2 separate regions of the Homo sapiens genome follow, and region 1 is linked to region 2. A link means that fine-mapping ties the variant in region 2 to the expression of a gene that starts in the linked region. Tissue or cell type: whole blood. Region 2 holds a variant in brackets; the other region holds the start of a gene. All regions are shown on one strand. Distances are from middle to middle. Region 1 holds the start of IL18R1 (interleukin 18 receptor 1). Region 2 overlaps IL1RL1 (interleukin 1 receptor like 1).

The links.
Region 1: it holds the start of IL18R1, and the variant in region 2 is fine-mapped to the expression of IL18R1 in whole blood (INTERVAL, PIP 0.97).

What each region holds. Positions count from the first base shown.
Region 1 is chr2:102,351,349-102,359,348 of GRCh38, forward strand. IL18R1 (interleukin 18 receptor 1) reads left to right here and starts at 4,448. Exons shown (of 11, transcript NM_003855.5): 1 at 4,448-5,052. It overlaps IL1RL1 (interleukin 1 receptor like 1), which reads left to right. Exons shown (of 11, transcript NM_016232.5): 11 at 188-689. The coding sequence ends at 573. RefSeq lists an enhancer at 4,217-4,718 and silencers at 4,313-4,422, 4,443-4,502.
Region 2 is chr2:102,331,012-102,339,011 of GRCh38, forward strand. It overlaps IL1RL1 (interleukin 1 receptor like 1), which reads left to right. Exons shown (of 11, transcript NM_016232.5): 2 at 7,105-7,314; 3 at 7,826-8,000. The coding sequence starts at 7,254. Among named protein-coding and RNA genes, the nearest start is that of IL18R1, 21 kb to the right of the region's middle. The variant G/T (reference allele first, on the strand shown) is at 3,478.

The DNA.
Region 1 (8,000 bases), 20 kb after region 2:
CAAATGAAAGGAACACAAAGAACAAAACGGGTTCTCTATCCACACATACTTCCACTTCTCTGAGTAAGTGACTTGATGTCAGAGAATCTCACACCAGATTATAACAATAAGACTTTTAAATGTTCAGGATGTTTATGTTTAAAGCATTAGACTGATAAGAAATCTGATCTATTTCTTGTATGACTAGATGTAGTCACTGCAGTGGAAACCAACATACGAAAGAGCAGGCGGCACATTTTCATCCTGACCCCTCAGATCACTCACAATAAGGAGTTTGCCTACGAGCAGGAGGTTGCCCTGCACTGTGCCCTCATCCAGAACGACGCCAAGGTGATACTTATTGAGATGGAGGCTCTGAGCGAGCTGGACATGCTGCAGGCTGAGGCGCTTCAGGACTCCCTCCAGCATCTTATGAAAGTACAGGGGACCATCAAGTGGAGGGAGGACCACATTGCCAATAAAAGGTCCCTGAATTCTAAATTCTGGAAGCACGTGAGGTACCAAATGCCTGTGCCAAGCAAAATTCCCAGAAAGGCCTCTAGTTTGACTCCCTTGGCTGCCCAGAAGCAATAGTGCCTGCTGTGATGTGCAAAGGCATCTGAGTTTGAAGCTTTCCTGACTTCTCCTAGCTGGCTTATGCCCCTGCACTGAAGTGTGAGGAGCAGGAATATTAAAGGGATTCAGGCCTCAGGTTTCATCTGGTAACTTTCCTTCCATTTCCCTGCTTCTGGGTGGATGCAAAATGGCCAGAAATTTTTCTCCTCAATCCTCCACCATCCTCCAGCCACCATTTTCTTCCCTTTTCCCTTTTGCTTGCCTGTCTTCACTGTGGTGTGGGATGTTTTCACTACTCTTTTTTCCTCTCTCTCTGTCTTGCTTTGTTTCTCCTCATTCTTGTCAATAATCTGAATAGCAAACTAATCATTCGAGAGTAGATTTTCACGTCACTTGAAGAACATTCTGATTCCCTCAGGCAGAATGTCAGTTGTAAATCTTGTTCCCAACATGCCAGATTTTCTTTATTTTCTATATATATATATAATATTTTATATATAATATTATATATAATATTTTATATATAATTTTATATATAAAATATTATATATAATATTATATATAATATTTTCTATATAAAATGTGTATATAATTATATATAATTATATAAAATATAATATAGAATATCTAATAATGTATAATATATAACATATAAAAATAATATTATTTAATATATAATATTTTATATATAATATTTTTATATATAATATAATATATATTTTATATATAATTATTAATTATATAATTAATATATAATATATATTTTATACATAATTATTAATTATATATAATTAATATATAATATATCTTATACATAATTATCAATTATATATAATTAATATATAATATATATTTTATACATAATTATTAATTATATATAATTAATATATAATATATCTTATACATAATATATATAAATATATTATATATAATATATATTATATATAATATTATATATAATATATATTATATATATAAAATTTATATATAATATTATATATAATATTATATATTTTATATACAATATGATATATAATATAATTTATATATTATATATATTTATATATAATTATTATATAAATTATATAAATATAAATTATATATTTATATATAATTATTATATAAATCATTATATAATTATTATAATTATAATATATAATATAATATAATATTATATATAATATATAGTATTCTATATAAATAATATAACATATATTTTATATAGAATATTATATATAATATAATATATATTTTATATAGAATATTATATATAATATAATATATATTTTATATAGAATATTTTATATATATAATATTATATATATGTATTTGAGACAGAGTCTCCTATGAACATACTTGTGGACTTATGATTTTATTTTGACACTTAAGAGTGGTCATAGGGTAGGTGCATATTTAACTTTCAGAGAAACTTATACATTGTTTCGCAAACTAATTGTACTACTTTACATTCCCACCAGTTGTGTATGAGAGCTCTGCTGCTTCATTGCCTCACCAATAATTGGTGTTGTCAAGTTTCTTTATATTTTAACAATTTTCACAGGTGTTAGATGAAGATCACCATGGTCTTAACTTGAAGTTCCCCGACTCATGATGATGAGCCCTTTTCATGTTTTCATTGGCCATTCGTATATATTTTTTAGTGAAGGCAAAATATTTTGCCTTATTTAAATTGTATTTCTTTTTATATTGTTGATGTGTAGGAATTATTTATGTATTGTGGATGCAAGTTCTTTGCCAGATAGATGTAAAGTGAGAATATTTCCAGGGTTATCTATTCATTTTTAAGTGATGTCTTTGTTTAGTAGACATTTTTAATTTTGGTGATGTCCAATTAATCAATGTGTCCCAAATGGCTATTTTTTTTTGTGTCCTAGCTAAGAATTTTTTTTTTTTGCCTGTCCAAGAGCATGATTTATTTATTTATTTTTTGCCTGTTCAAGGGTCTTCTCTGTATTTTTATGAAATATTTACGGTTCTAGCTTTTATGTTTAGGTCCATGGTCTATTGTGAATTGATACTTGTATATAGAACAAGGCAAGGACAAAGTTCTTTTTTCTGCTGCTGCTTCTTCTGTAGAGGTACCCAGCTGTTCCAGCAATGTTTGTGAAAGACTGTTTTTTCCCCACTGAATTGACATGGTGCTTTGTTAAAAAAATCAATTGACTAGATATGTGTGGATCTATTAGTCTACTTTCTATTTTGTATGTTTGTATGTTTCTGTGAATATCACATTGCCATAATTACTATTGCCTTATTATAAATCCTCAAGTCAGTATAAGTCTCTCAACTTTGTTCATCTTTGTCAAGATTGCCCAGACAGGCCGGGCAGGTGGCTCACCCCTGTAATTTCAACACTTTGGGAGGCTGAAATGGGTGGATCACCTGAGGTCGAGAGTTCAAAACCAGCCTGACCAACACGGAGAAACCCTGTCTCTACTAAAAATACAAAAGTAGCCAGGCGTGATAGTGCATGCCTGTAATCCCAGCTACTCGGGCGGCTGAGGCAGGAGAATCGCTTGAACCCGGGAGGCGGAGGTTGCAGTGAGCCGAGATCGCGTCATTGCACTCACTCCAGCCTGGGCAAGAAGAGCAAAACTCCGTCTCTGTCCGGACAATCCTAGATTATTTGCATTTTCATATGAATTTTAGAAACAGCTTCTTAATTTCTTTGAAAAATTTTCCTGGGATTTGGATTGAATTGTATTAAATATATAGATTCTGTAATATATAGAGTCTAAAAATATACAGTGTGGAGAATAGATGTCTTAAGTCTTCCAATCCGTAAACGTGGTATATCCCTTTATTACTTAGATGTTTCATCTCTGTTAGCAATATTTTGTAGTTTTCACAGGAGATATCTCATATATTATCCAATGAATTTATACTTTGGTATTTTGATTTTTAAATGCTATGGTAAATGGCATTTTTAACAAACTTCACTTTTCAAGTTTCCATCTCTAATATATAGAATTGCTATTGATTTTTATATTCCATGATCTTGATAAACTTAATATTTCCAGTAGTTTTTTTTTTTGTAGATTTCAAAAGTTGGTCTACATATAATTATGCTCTCTGTTAAAACCAGTAGTTTTAATTCTTTCTTCTCAATCTTTATGCTTTCTAATTTTATTTTTATTTCTTCACTTGTTGCAAAGCAGTTGTCCCAGGTGGGAGCCAAAATCCTTATCTCATTACTAATCTTAGGAAAAAGTAAAATGTTTCACTATTATGAGGTCACCTGTAGGTTTCTTATAGATGTTCTTTATCAGATTAAGAAAGATCATTTCTACTCTCGGTTTTCTGATCGTTATTAATTCAGAAAGGGTGTTGAATTTTGCCAGATGCTTTTATTTGCATTTATTGAGATAATTACATATTTTTATTTATTATGTGGTGAATTATCTAAATTGGGTAAAAAGAATTAAAATCATTGTCCAATTGAACATTTTGCCTGTCGGCTATGGGTTTCCCTTTTCCTTTGGTTAAATAACAGTTCTGCCACAAAATAAAAATCTAGAAACACACATTCCCCTTTGGCCTCCTTAAAAAAAATTAAAACTTCAACAATTGCACCCCTCTCTATTACTTCCCTATAGTGAACTCCCATCCTTCTGGGAAAGCAAAAAGCCTGGGGCGCATTTGTGTACTTGAGACGCGGAGCCCCTCTCACCTTCGGCATCCCCCGGGGACCCCTCTTCCACCCTCAGCCCTCCCCTCCTCTTCCTCTGAAGAGCCGGGCGGCCGCTGCGGCCAGCGGTCCTCCCTCCTGGCATCCTCTGCTGTGAACCGCGGCCTGCAGGGTGCTTGCGAGCGGCCCGGGCGCGCCCCCTTCCGGCCCCGCAGGTCACCCGGCTACAGCCCGGGTTTTCCCGGGACCCGCGCCGCGCGGCTGGGCAGGAAGCGCCAGACGCCTGGGGCCCACGCCGTCCGCGGGAAAAGGGCAAGGCGCTGGGTTTTCCAGCAGCAACCTTTGGACCCCGCGATCCAGTAGCTCCGGTAACTCCACGCGGGGCGTCTGGGTGGAGGAGCCGGTCCTGGAGCACGGCTGCGAGGAGCACCCGGACCGGAGGGTCCCCAGACCGGGACCTCCGAGTCAGGGAGGATTCTACGCCAGGGAGCGCCCCAGACTGAGAGCGCCCCAGACCGCTACACTCCCGGACCCGGAGCTTCGCCCGACCGCGGGCAGTGCCCACCTGCAGCCTCCACCGGCCGGGGTTAGCAGCCAGGAGCTGCCAGACGCCTGACATTCTTCTTTCTGTTCCTACTTTTTTTCCTTCTTCTTCTTTTTTTTTTTTTTTGTAGCCCTCTCTGGGTGCCTTATCTCTTTAATCACACCTCTCTTTCACTTTCCACGGTAGTCAGGAGGCGGAGATCGCTGCTTCTCACCTACTTTCTGAACTTGGCCTCCGCAGTCGCGACCTGGCGTGAAGGAGGAGCTGCCGCCCCCGCCCCAGCCTCGGGGACGCCTCTCTGAAGGTAAGGGTGGGCTCCGCTGCCACCCGCATCCCCTCCCCACCCCCCAGAGGAAGGGAAGACCACCATCCGGGGAGGGATTCTCAAAACAAGATCAATTAAGAGAGAGAGAGAGATAGTGTGTGTGTGAATACGTGTGAATAATTGATGAGACAGCATCCTGTCTTTCTCTGAAAGTATAGTTTTAGAAATTAAGACATCCCCAATTATTTTCTGGAGAGGTGAGAACGACTGAAATAAATGATAACAATAGTTGTCATTTTTTAAGTGCTTACTGTGTGCCTGACACTGTAGAAAATTTTTAGATATCTTATTTTCACTTAATCCTCCTAAGGGCCACATGAAATAGGAACTATTATTATGCTTTAATAAAAGGGAGGAGGAATTCCGTCATTTACCCAAGAGTATCCAGCTACTAAGTAGTAGATCCCAGATCCACACCTACAGTTTTTCTGATTCCAGAGCCTTTGTCTTTTTTCTGCCCAGCCTTGGGAAGTTAAAATGCCCAGCACCTTGCATCGCAGTTATCAGACAAATTAATGAGGTGTCAATTGCAGCCAGATACAGAGATCCAAGATTATTGTATTCATTTCACTGACTTCCCTTGCTTCATTCTCAAGACCCTTTGCAAATACTGATTTTGTGTCATACACAGTGCTGCTATTGGGAGCACACCTCTCAACCTCAGGGCCTTGGATGGGCTAGGAGGGGTAAATTTGGGGAATTGGGTTTGTGCAGGTTCTGGGGACAGTGTTTTCCCTCTCCCTGCACAAATATACATCCAAAGGCTGAGAACTAAGGCTAAGGCCTAGGAATGTGGATTGAAAAGGCAGGGTCTAAATCCCAGCACTTGGGAGGCTGAGGTGGGCGGATCATGAGGTCAGGAGATCGAGACCATCCTGGCTAACATGGTGAAACCCCGTCTCTACTAAAAATACAGAAAATTAGCCAGGCATGGTGGCATGCATCTGTAATCCCAGCTACTCGGGAGGCTGAGGCAGGAGAATCCCTTGAACCTGGGAGGCAGAGGTTGCAGTGAGCAGAGATTGTGCCACTGCACTCCAGCCTGGGCGACAGAGTGAGACTCTATCTCAAAAAAAAAAAAGAAAAAAAAGAAAAGGCAGGGTCCCTGCCTTCAGGGACCTCACCAGAGAGTGGGAGCTAGTCCAGGAGTGATGGAAACACCTGCAGAGTGATGGAGACGGGCTTGGACATAGGCATGTGCCATTTGGGGCTGTTGCAGTTGGAGAGCTTCCTTGAGAAGGCAAATACTGAGCCAAGTTGAAAGGACTCTAGGGACCTGGCATCTGGGATAAGTGGGGAGGGTGGCCCAGGTAGCACAGGCATAGGCAGATTTGGGGGGAAGCATAAGGCTAACAACAGACACTTGTGTGACAAGGACTATGAGGTGGCATTGATTTTCTTGGCCTTACAGATGAGAAGCCAGATTCCACACAAATTATTTTGTTTGTTAGAGTTTAAGCGTGTGTGTGTGTGTGTATGTTATGCCCCAAGATCATTTTCTCCTCTTTGCATTTGGTTGTTTTATCATCTCACAGGCTGAGTAAAACGACTATGCATGGAACACTGTAGAAGAAAAATTATATTAAAAAAAAACTGGTGTTATGATTTTCATCCAGGCATTTTGTCTCAGGAGTTGCTCGATTGTATGTGTTGCTAATGAGTGATTTATATTGAGGCATCTACATTGATTCATGTGTGTCCTTGTGAATAGCTGTAATCTGAGGCTGGCCATTTCACTTCCTCAAATCTCAGGTTCCTCATTAGAAAGAGCTTTGAAATGGCTCTTTCCCTGTACATTATGTGTTTCTGTGAATTACTTTTAGAGAAAGGTCAGTTTCTCAGGGTGGGACCCATAAACAAGGGCAACTGGGCAGAGCCAGGGGTTCAGGTGACTGTTTGGACCCTCTGGAAGGGCTTTTTACTGTGCTGCCTTGGGAGACAGAGTGGTCAGCTTGGAACTGACCTTAAGCCTAGGTCACCCAATTTTTGAAGGAAACTTTTTTTTTTCATTTAGAGAAAACTTCATGCCTTTGGGTGATTAGGTAAGTTTGTGACTATTCGTTATGTGTGTGTACACACACGTACGTACATATGTACATGCACAAATATTTAATATGTCTTAGACACACCAAATATATGCATTTAAGATGTATTAAATGTACTTTCCTGAGAATACAAATAAGTGCCCTACGTCGGCGGCTCTCTTCCTGACTGTATGTTAGAGTCACCTGCGGAGTTCTGAGGACTCAAGATGCCCAGTCTGTCCTCCAGACCACTGGGTGGAGCCCGGGCATCATTATTTTTTTCCAAACTTGGGTGAGAGCTGGTGGCCTAGACTTCACATTAGTTGCTAAAACATACTTTCCAAGATATCATGCGTTAAAAAGCATTTCAAAAGTAGATTGTGCAGATGTGCCAATGGATCAGATGATCACCTAGATTCAAAATTATGTATATTTTATGGATGTAATTCATTCAATAATTCAGCAAATAACAAAGAAACAAGCAGACATAAAGTGAAAATATGACAGTTAGTGATAAGTGCTATGAATAGAAAAACTAAACATGGGAGGGTAGAGGAACATTGGTGTGTGTGAGCATGTGTGTGTGTGTGCGTGTGTGTGCATGTGCATGTTTGCATTTGGAAAAGCATGCTGTGCTAGACTTGCAGTAGAGTGCTCAGGGAGGACCTGTACATTATAAGCTAGTGTCAGCAAACCGTAGGGGAAATACAGGATTATTTAATTAACAATAGAGAAGTAATTAGTAGGTATTTGAGGAAAGTAAGTTTAGTTACTCCCTATCTTCATGTCAATCAAGAAAATTAATTGTTGGTGGATGAAAAAAGTTAAATATAAAAACAAAACAAAACAATACTGAGCCATAAAAATGAAGAAACTATGTAAGCATCTATTTGACCACCAACA
Region 2 (8,000 bases):
TAAACTTATGTTGGCACTTTAATCAAACATCAATTTACTATATATTTTTGAGTCTACTTCTGGACTCTCTCTTCTTTGATCAACATGTCTGTCTTTATGCCCATACCACACTGTTTTCACTATGGTAGCTTTTATATTAAGTCTTAAGGTCAGGTTGTGTAAGTTCTCTGACTTTGTTCTTTTTCTTTAACCATGTCTTGGGTATTCCCAGGACTTTAATTTGCCATGCAGACTTTAGATTTCCATAGAAGCTTTAGAAGCAGATTCTGCTGCTGGGAGAATAAGTTACACTGACCTCAGGACAAAAGATGTACATGAACTAAATAAAGGACGACAAATGCAGACCACAGCAATAAAGTCTGTGGAATTAGTATGTGAGAAATTACACAATGGTCTAAAATATTAGTCTTGAAGGGATCTTAATGATGATTTAGTCATTTCACATGTGCAAACTGTTAAGACTGCTGGCTGTTTTTCACATGGCCACCAGCCCATTTCTTTTTCCTGAGTGTCTGCAGTCCACAGAGCTTCTTCTGGCTCTCTATGCTCCATCTGTTCTCGGCCCAGGAGTTCCCATGGGACCTCCCAAGGGTGACTCAGGTCTCATCTTCCGATAAGATAAAAGAAATAAGACAGATATTCGGGGTAGAGATGTAAGAGCATGGTGAAAGACAGACTGCTCCTGTTTAGATCCATATATAAAAGCTTTATTTTTTGAATCCCAAATTCCATCCCTTGGTCATCTGTACTGGTTCATTCAATAAATATTTCTGAGGCTGGGCATGGTGACTCAAGCCTGTAATCCCAGCACTTTGGGAGGTCAAGGTTGGTGGATCTCTTGAGCCCAGATGTTTGAGACCAGCTTTGGCAATATGGTGAAACCCCATCTCTACGAAAAATACAAAAATTAGCTGGGCATGGTGATGTGTGCATGTAGTCCCAGCTATTCTGGAGGCTGAGGTGGGAGGATCACCTGAGCCTGGGAGGTGGAGACTGCAGTGAGCCATGATCACACCACTGCACTCCATCCTGGGTGAAAGAGTGAGACCTTGCCTCAGAAATAATAATAATAATGATAATAAGTAAACATTTCTGAGCACCTACTTGGTGCTCTTCCAGGCACATGAGCTATATCAATAGACAAAACTCACAAAAATAATATTGCCTTCTGGAGGTCATATTCCAATGGATAAAACAGAAAATAATAAACATGATGCATAAGTAGAATGTTAGAAGTGATGAATGCCTTAGAAAAAGATTGGAGCAGGTTAAGGAGATGGGGATTGGGAGAGGAGACATTGCAATTCAAAATTGATTGGTCAGGAACTCAAACAAATACTTGGACACCGATAGCAGCATTATTCAAAATAGTCAATAGCTAGAAGCAACCCAGATGCCCATTAAGGGATGAATGGATAAACAAAGTGTGGTAGGCACACACAGTGGAATATTATTCAGTCATTAGAAACAATAAAGTACAGACCCATGCTACAATATGAACAAAACTTGGAAAGATTATGCTAAGTGAAATAAGGCAGTCACAAAGGGCACTTATTGTGTGACTCCATTTATAGGAAATATTCAGAATAGATAAACCCATAGAATCAGAAAGCAGATTGGTGGTGGCTATGGGTTTGTGGTGGAAGAGGAAGAATGGGGACTTCATGTTAATGGGTATGGGGTTATACTCGGGGATGGTGAAAATGTTTTGAAACTAGATAGAGTTAGTGGTTGTACCACATTGTGAATGTACCAAATGTCACTAAATTGTGCACTTCGAAATAGTTAATTTTATGTTATGTAAATTTCAGCGCAATTTTTAAAAATCAGAAGCAAAAAAAGAACAGAAAATTGAGTAGTTAGGCTAAGTCTCACAGAGAATGTACAGTTTGAGTGCTCACTTGGAGGAGGTAAGTTAGCTCTTGGAGGAGGTGGGTAACAGGAAGAAGCTGTCCAGGCAGAAGGAACAATGTCTGCCTAGTGCCTTCAAGGAACAGCAATGAGGATACGGGGTTGGAGGGGAGGGGTCAGAGAGGTGATTGGTGGTGTTCCATCGTGTGGTACCTCCCAGCTTCTGTAAAGACGTTGGCTTTTCCTCTGGGTGAGGTGGAAGACTTTGGAGGCCCCCTTGATTTGACCTAGGTTCTAACAGAATCTCCAGAGTGTCTGTTTTAGGAATATACTTAAGAGGGTACAAGTGGAAGCAGGGATAGCAATTTAGAAGCAGTTATTAAAATCCAAGTGAGAGACCATGGTGGCTTGGACAAGGATGGTGGCATTGAGAATGGAGAGATGCAATTGCAGGTAGGATGTCCTTTGAAGATGAAACCATAAGTTGTCCTGATGGATTGCATGTTCAATATGTGAGGAAGAGAAGAGTCAATAATAAATGGAGTCTTGGTCTGAGCCAACATTCAGCATGGAGTTGTCATCATTACAATTAGAAGACAATGGGAGATGCTGAATTTTCTTTGGGGCAAGGGAGGCAAGGAGGCTGGAGGAGATCAGAAGTTCTGTTCTGGAGACATGAAGCTTTTGTGAATTCCACTTGTTCCTTGAATATATGATGGTTTCTTCTGTTTTTGTTTGTTTGTTTTTTTAAATTTTAGATTCTAAGGTACATGTACTTGTTTGTTACAAAGGTATATTGCATTACTGGTGGGGACTGGTCTTACCCAAATTGTGAATATTGTACCCAGTAGGTAATTTTTCATTCATCACCCCCTACCCTCCCTACTTTTGGAGTCCCCAGTGTCTATTATTTCCATCTTTATGTCCATGAGTACCCATGGTTTAGCTCCCACATATGAGTAAGAACATGTGGTATTTGGTTTTCTGTTTCTTAACTGGTTCACTTAAGATAATGGTCTCCAGCTCCATCCATGTAGCAAAGGACATAATCTCATTCTTTTTATGGCTGAATAGTAATCCGTGGTGCATAGGTACAACATTTTCTTTATCTAGTCAACCGTTGATGGACACTTGAGTTGGTTCCATGACTTTCCTATTGTGAACCGTGCTGCAGTGAACATACTAGTAGAGGTGGAGAGGTGTCTTTTTTATACACTAATTTCTTTTCCTTAGAAAAGTAGTGAGATTTCTGGGTTGAATGGTAGTTTTACTTTTGGTTCATTGAGAAATCTTCATACTGTTTTCCTTAGAGATTGAACTAATTGACATTCCCAGCAACAATGTATAAGCATTCCCTTTTCTCCATATCCATGCCAACATCTGCTGTTTTTTGAGTTTTTGATAATAGCCATTCAGACGGGTCTTCTGGTTTTTGGAGGGGAGGATTGGGTGAAGCAAGAAGGAGTTTGGAGGGAAGGAGTGGAGGCTTGAGTGGGCCTAGAGTTTGGAGTATGGGCAAGAAGGATCCCAGAGACAAGCACTTTGCCCACAGCTACACAGCTAATGGAGCTGGGGGGCCCAGCATATTCTCCAGAGGCCCAGGCTAGGCCGTCTAGGGGCATGCTT[G/T]TTCTGCCCCATCCACTGCAGGTCCTGAAAACATTTTCATCAATAAAAAAAAATAAAAAAACAGAATAAAAATGATACCCAGATGTCCTCTAGTGAAATGAGGGGAAAAAAAACATCCATCCCCAGCTTATTGTGAGAGTCACTGAATGAGAGCCTGACTCACTGAAATTCATATAAGATTAATGTAACCAAGTTCCCTGTCTTTTGACACTGGTTTACAGTAAGAGCAGGCCACACATGGCCAGCTCTGGAGTGTGTTAGGACATTTACATTTTACATTTCAGTGTGATATCTGCTAAGTCAAATGAAGAAGTCTTGAAAGATACCTTCTAAGTTCGGAAGTATTTGAGTGTCACATTCCATATGCCAGCAGTTAGTTGTTGCCCTCAAAACATAAGGTTTTGTTTGTTCTTTTGTTTTTTGTTTTTTTAATGGTTATGTAAGTGAAGTAGATTATAAATAGGCACATACAGGATTTCAAAACTGTAACAAAATTAAGAAAAAGCTGGTTCAATGAGCTTAGATTCTATGAGATTAATCTGAAAAGGGAGAGTAGTTATGAGAAGTCTTAAAAAAGTGGGTGTTTGCCAGAGAAACAAGCGGACACTGGAAGATTTCTGATTAAGTTGGCAGAAATTTATGGGTGCTTAAAATGCCTTGCTTTATTCATGTATTAGAAGCCCTTGCCTTTTTGCAGTTTGTCTTAAGTTGCTATAAACTACTCTCTGTTATGTTGAATGGTGCCTGAATAGTGAGAAGCCAAAATAATTTAGTTCTTTTCAAAGAAGAAATTATAGACTAGCTTATTTTAATAACCCAGTCCAAATTATAAAAAGAAAAGCTTTACCAGCCTAATCTCTGGTATAGAGAATGTTCTCTTTTTTTAGTTGACATTGGGGGGAGAAAAGCTTGACTTTGAAGTTCAGCAAGTCTGGTTTCAACCCCAGCCACAACTGGGTGAACTTTGTCAAATTACTTAAACAGTCTTATCCTTGGGTTTTTATTTGTAACTATAAAATTTGAGTGATGTTAATGATAAGTACCACAGAGTATTGTACTTTGAATGAAAGGTCTTAATTGTCAAATGAACAACTGAATTATTTTATAGGAAGAGTTCAACTTTAATAAATACTCCTGCAGAATTTCATCATTATGATGTTAAAATTGATGGAAGCTTTATTTTTTAAACTGAGAAACTAATGCTTACGTGGCCTAGTTTAAGAATGAATGCTCCAACTTAATACATGTTTTAAAAAGATGTTTTGGGATACCAAATGTAAAAGAATTCCGAGTTTGTGTTATTTTATTGAACAAACCTATTCAGCACTTGGGGAATCGCAGGCAGCATTGCAGACTCGCTGGCTCCTGGCTGTGATCTCACACCCAAACTGCAATAATATCCTGATAAAACGGACTTCCACAAGTAGGTCAAGAATAATAATGTGCAGACCTAATTCCTCTAATTTACGGCGAACATCTCATGGTCAATCTCCCCGCGGTCAAAGGACTGTGTATCTCTTCCTCTCAGAGCCACTCCACAGGCTGAAAGGCTGACTAAACCCCTGACAGATAAGAGATTCAAGAGTAGTCCCAGCCCCCATGGGGAGCAAAGACGCTGGCTCAAAAAACGTACTGATAACTCTCCCTTTTGCAGCTACTCCTTTCTGAACCTTCCACAAGCAGTGGCAGTTGGATTCTGTGATTAGTCTAGTCTTCAGAGCCAGCCTTCTTGAGTTCAAATTCTGACTTCACCCCTTAATGTGAAGTGACATGGGCAAGTTGCTTAATCTCTCTGTGCCTCAGTGTCCTTGTCTGTAAAATGGGCATCATAATAATAGCGCCTGCCACATTGGGTGAGTGTGAGAATGAAGGAATTAATACATGTAAATCACTTAGACTGTGTCTGGCATAGAGGACATTCTAAAGAAAAGTTAGCTATTATCATTATATTATTATATGGGTCTGGAATTAGTTCCTGAATCCTTCTGAGATGTGATGACTTATAAACGTAGGTTGAGTTTACTCATGATAGGGTCATCGCAACTATGCATAGCTAAAATCAAATTTTGCTTTTCAAGTTTGTTTTACCTGGAGCCCTAGAGTTCAGGGTTATGGTTTTCTTTGTCACTCCCCTTGAGGGAAGCTTCTTAGTCACACTCTCCTTCTCTTTCTCTGCACTCTATGCACTCTAGAAAAGCTCCTTTTTTTTTTTCTTCATCCAGGCAGAGAGGCCTACTGGGACTTAAATCCAAGGAGCTGAAATCTGTTTTGGGATGGGGTGGAGTCACATTCTGGAACCTAGACAGAGAATTTCTAAGTTCCAGAAAGTGCTGCTTACTTCGCATTTCCTCTCCCCCACCTTTGCTTTTGAAACTCCTGGCACCAATGCTGCCAAGGCTGGCGGAGCTTTCCTGAGTGGTGTCTGCCAAATGAGGAGTCAAGGAATATCTGGAAAGGCAGCCTCCAGGTCCCCGATGTCAAGACCATTTAGAACTGAAAGTGTCCCAATATCGGGGTACAGGCAATAAGCATTAGTTATTAATCAGCCTGAGAAGTTGATTCTAAAATAGGAGGAAATGATTCAATTATTTCCTCTCAAGGGATTACTCAATGTTGTTTTTATGTTTAAATATTTATTTGTCAACATCAAGAATTCTTAGTACATGATGCACCAGCATTTTTGAACAAGTCATAGATTTGGCCACAAATCAAATTTCAGGATGGGAGGAGTGTCTCCCCTTTAAAATAGAAGAGAGTGAGTAGTCTATGAGGAGGGACCTACAAAGACTGGAAACTATTCTTAGCTCCGTCACTGACTCCAAGTTCATCCCCTCTGTCTTTCAGTTTGGGTAAGCATCAATTACTTATCTAAAATTTGTAATAAGAAAAGTCTTCATAATTCATGATTGTGTTTATCTTTATGTTAGTAAATTTCTATGTTGGTTCTATTCTTCCCCTTATATTTTAAGAAAAGAAGTAAGAAAGTAAATGATTATTTTTCTGAAAGAAAAAATTAATGTATTTATTATTATTCATAGACCTTCAACTACTCTTAGAAAGCCTTTGGTGACTCCTGGGAACAAGCTGAGTCAGGAACAAAAGTTTGAGGGTTTGGGGTTGAGAATAGGACAATTACTTGGCTAATGCTTTAGTCTAGTTCTGATTTTGCTACTCCTTAGTTGCTTTGTGATGACTACTTGCACATGTGTCTGTTTGTGAGTTATTTTTGTGAGCATGCTGCTACCAGCCTGTGTGGATGTCTGTGGTTTCACATGATACATTTTATTTTCTAAAGTCTACTGAATTTTATGGTTTTTTTTTCAAAAATAGAAACTCATATTCTTTCCTTCTTAATTTAGTTTCTTTCAGGACATTCTCATGAGACTGGTGAAATATAACTGCGAAGTAGCATGATAACTGTGAAATAGCATGATCATTGTGAAAGCTATATGACCCAAAACTTCCATAGGAATAAGTGCAATGCTTGCATATCTGAAACCTGCTGTTACATCTCTTTGCACTTAATAAATATGTGTTGACTGATTCATTCTCCTGGGTGGTGCTGAGAAAGTAAAAATCATGGCTGATAAAAATTCTGTTTATGGTTTTGTCTAACTTATTTTTCAGTTGAGATATAGGCTACTCTTCCCAACTCAGTCTTGAAGAGTATCACCAACTGCCTCATGTGTGGTGACCTTCACTGTCGTATGCCAGTGACTCATCTGGAGTAATCTCAACAACGAGTTACCAATACTTGCTCTTGATTGATAAACAGAATGGGGTTTTGGATCTTAGCAATTCTCACAATTCTCATGTATTCCACAGCAGCAAAGTTTAGTAAGTATTGCCTTCTAAGTATAATTTAAATTTTTATAAATTAAATAATTTCAAGAACATTTACCTTGTTTTAAGCAGTTTGCTTCCAGTTGTTCCAGTTGAATTGTAAACTGAAAAATATATTGCTTTTGTACAATCATTTTTCATTACAAATCTATCAGAAGAAATTCTTTGTAATGAATATATCATCAGTTTGGCTTTGCATATTCAAATGCAGCAGAATTTAATGTGGTGCCTGCACATGGGAAGTGTTGTGGATGTTTATTGACTGACACACAGTTTGTTTAGATAGATAAGGCTGCTTTTCCATTGGATAACTGTGGGGGATTTAGCTCCAAATTAATTCATTAACATTTCATAAGAGATCTTAACAGTTACTTATTCTTTCCCAAGGTATCACAGTATATGACCGGCTTCTAAATTTAATCCTAGAAGAAAATATTGAGAGTATAAGAATTATGATCTTTTCATTTGATCATTTCAGGATTGTCTTTATATCTTTTATTTGCAGGTAAACAATCATGGGGCCTGGAAAATGAGGCTTTAATTGTAAGATGTCCTAGACAAGGAAAACCTAGTTACACCGTGGATTGGTATTACTCACAAACAAACAAAAGTATTCCCACTCAGGAAAGAAATCGTGTGTTTGCCTCAGGCCAACTTCTGAAGTTTCTACCAGCTGCAGT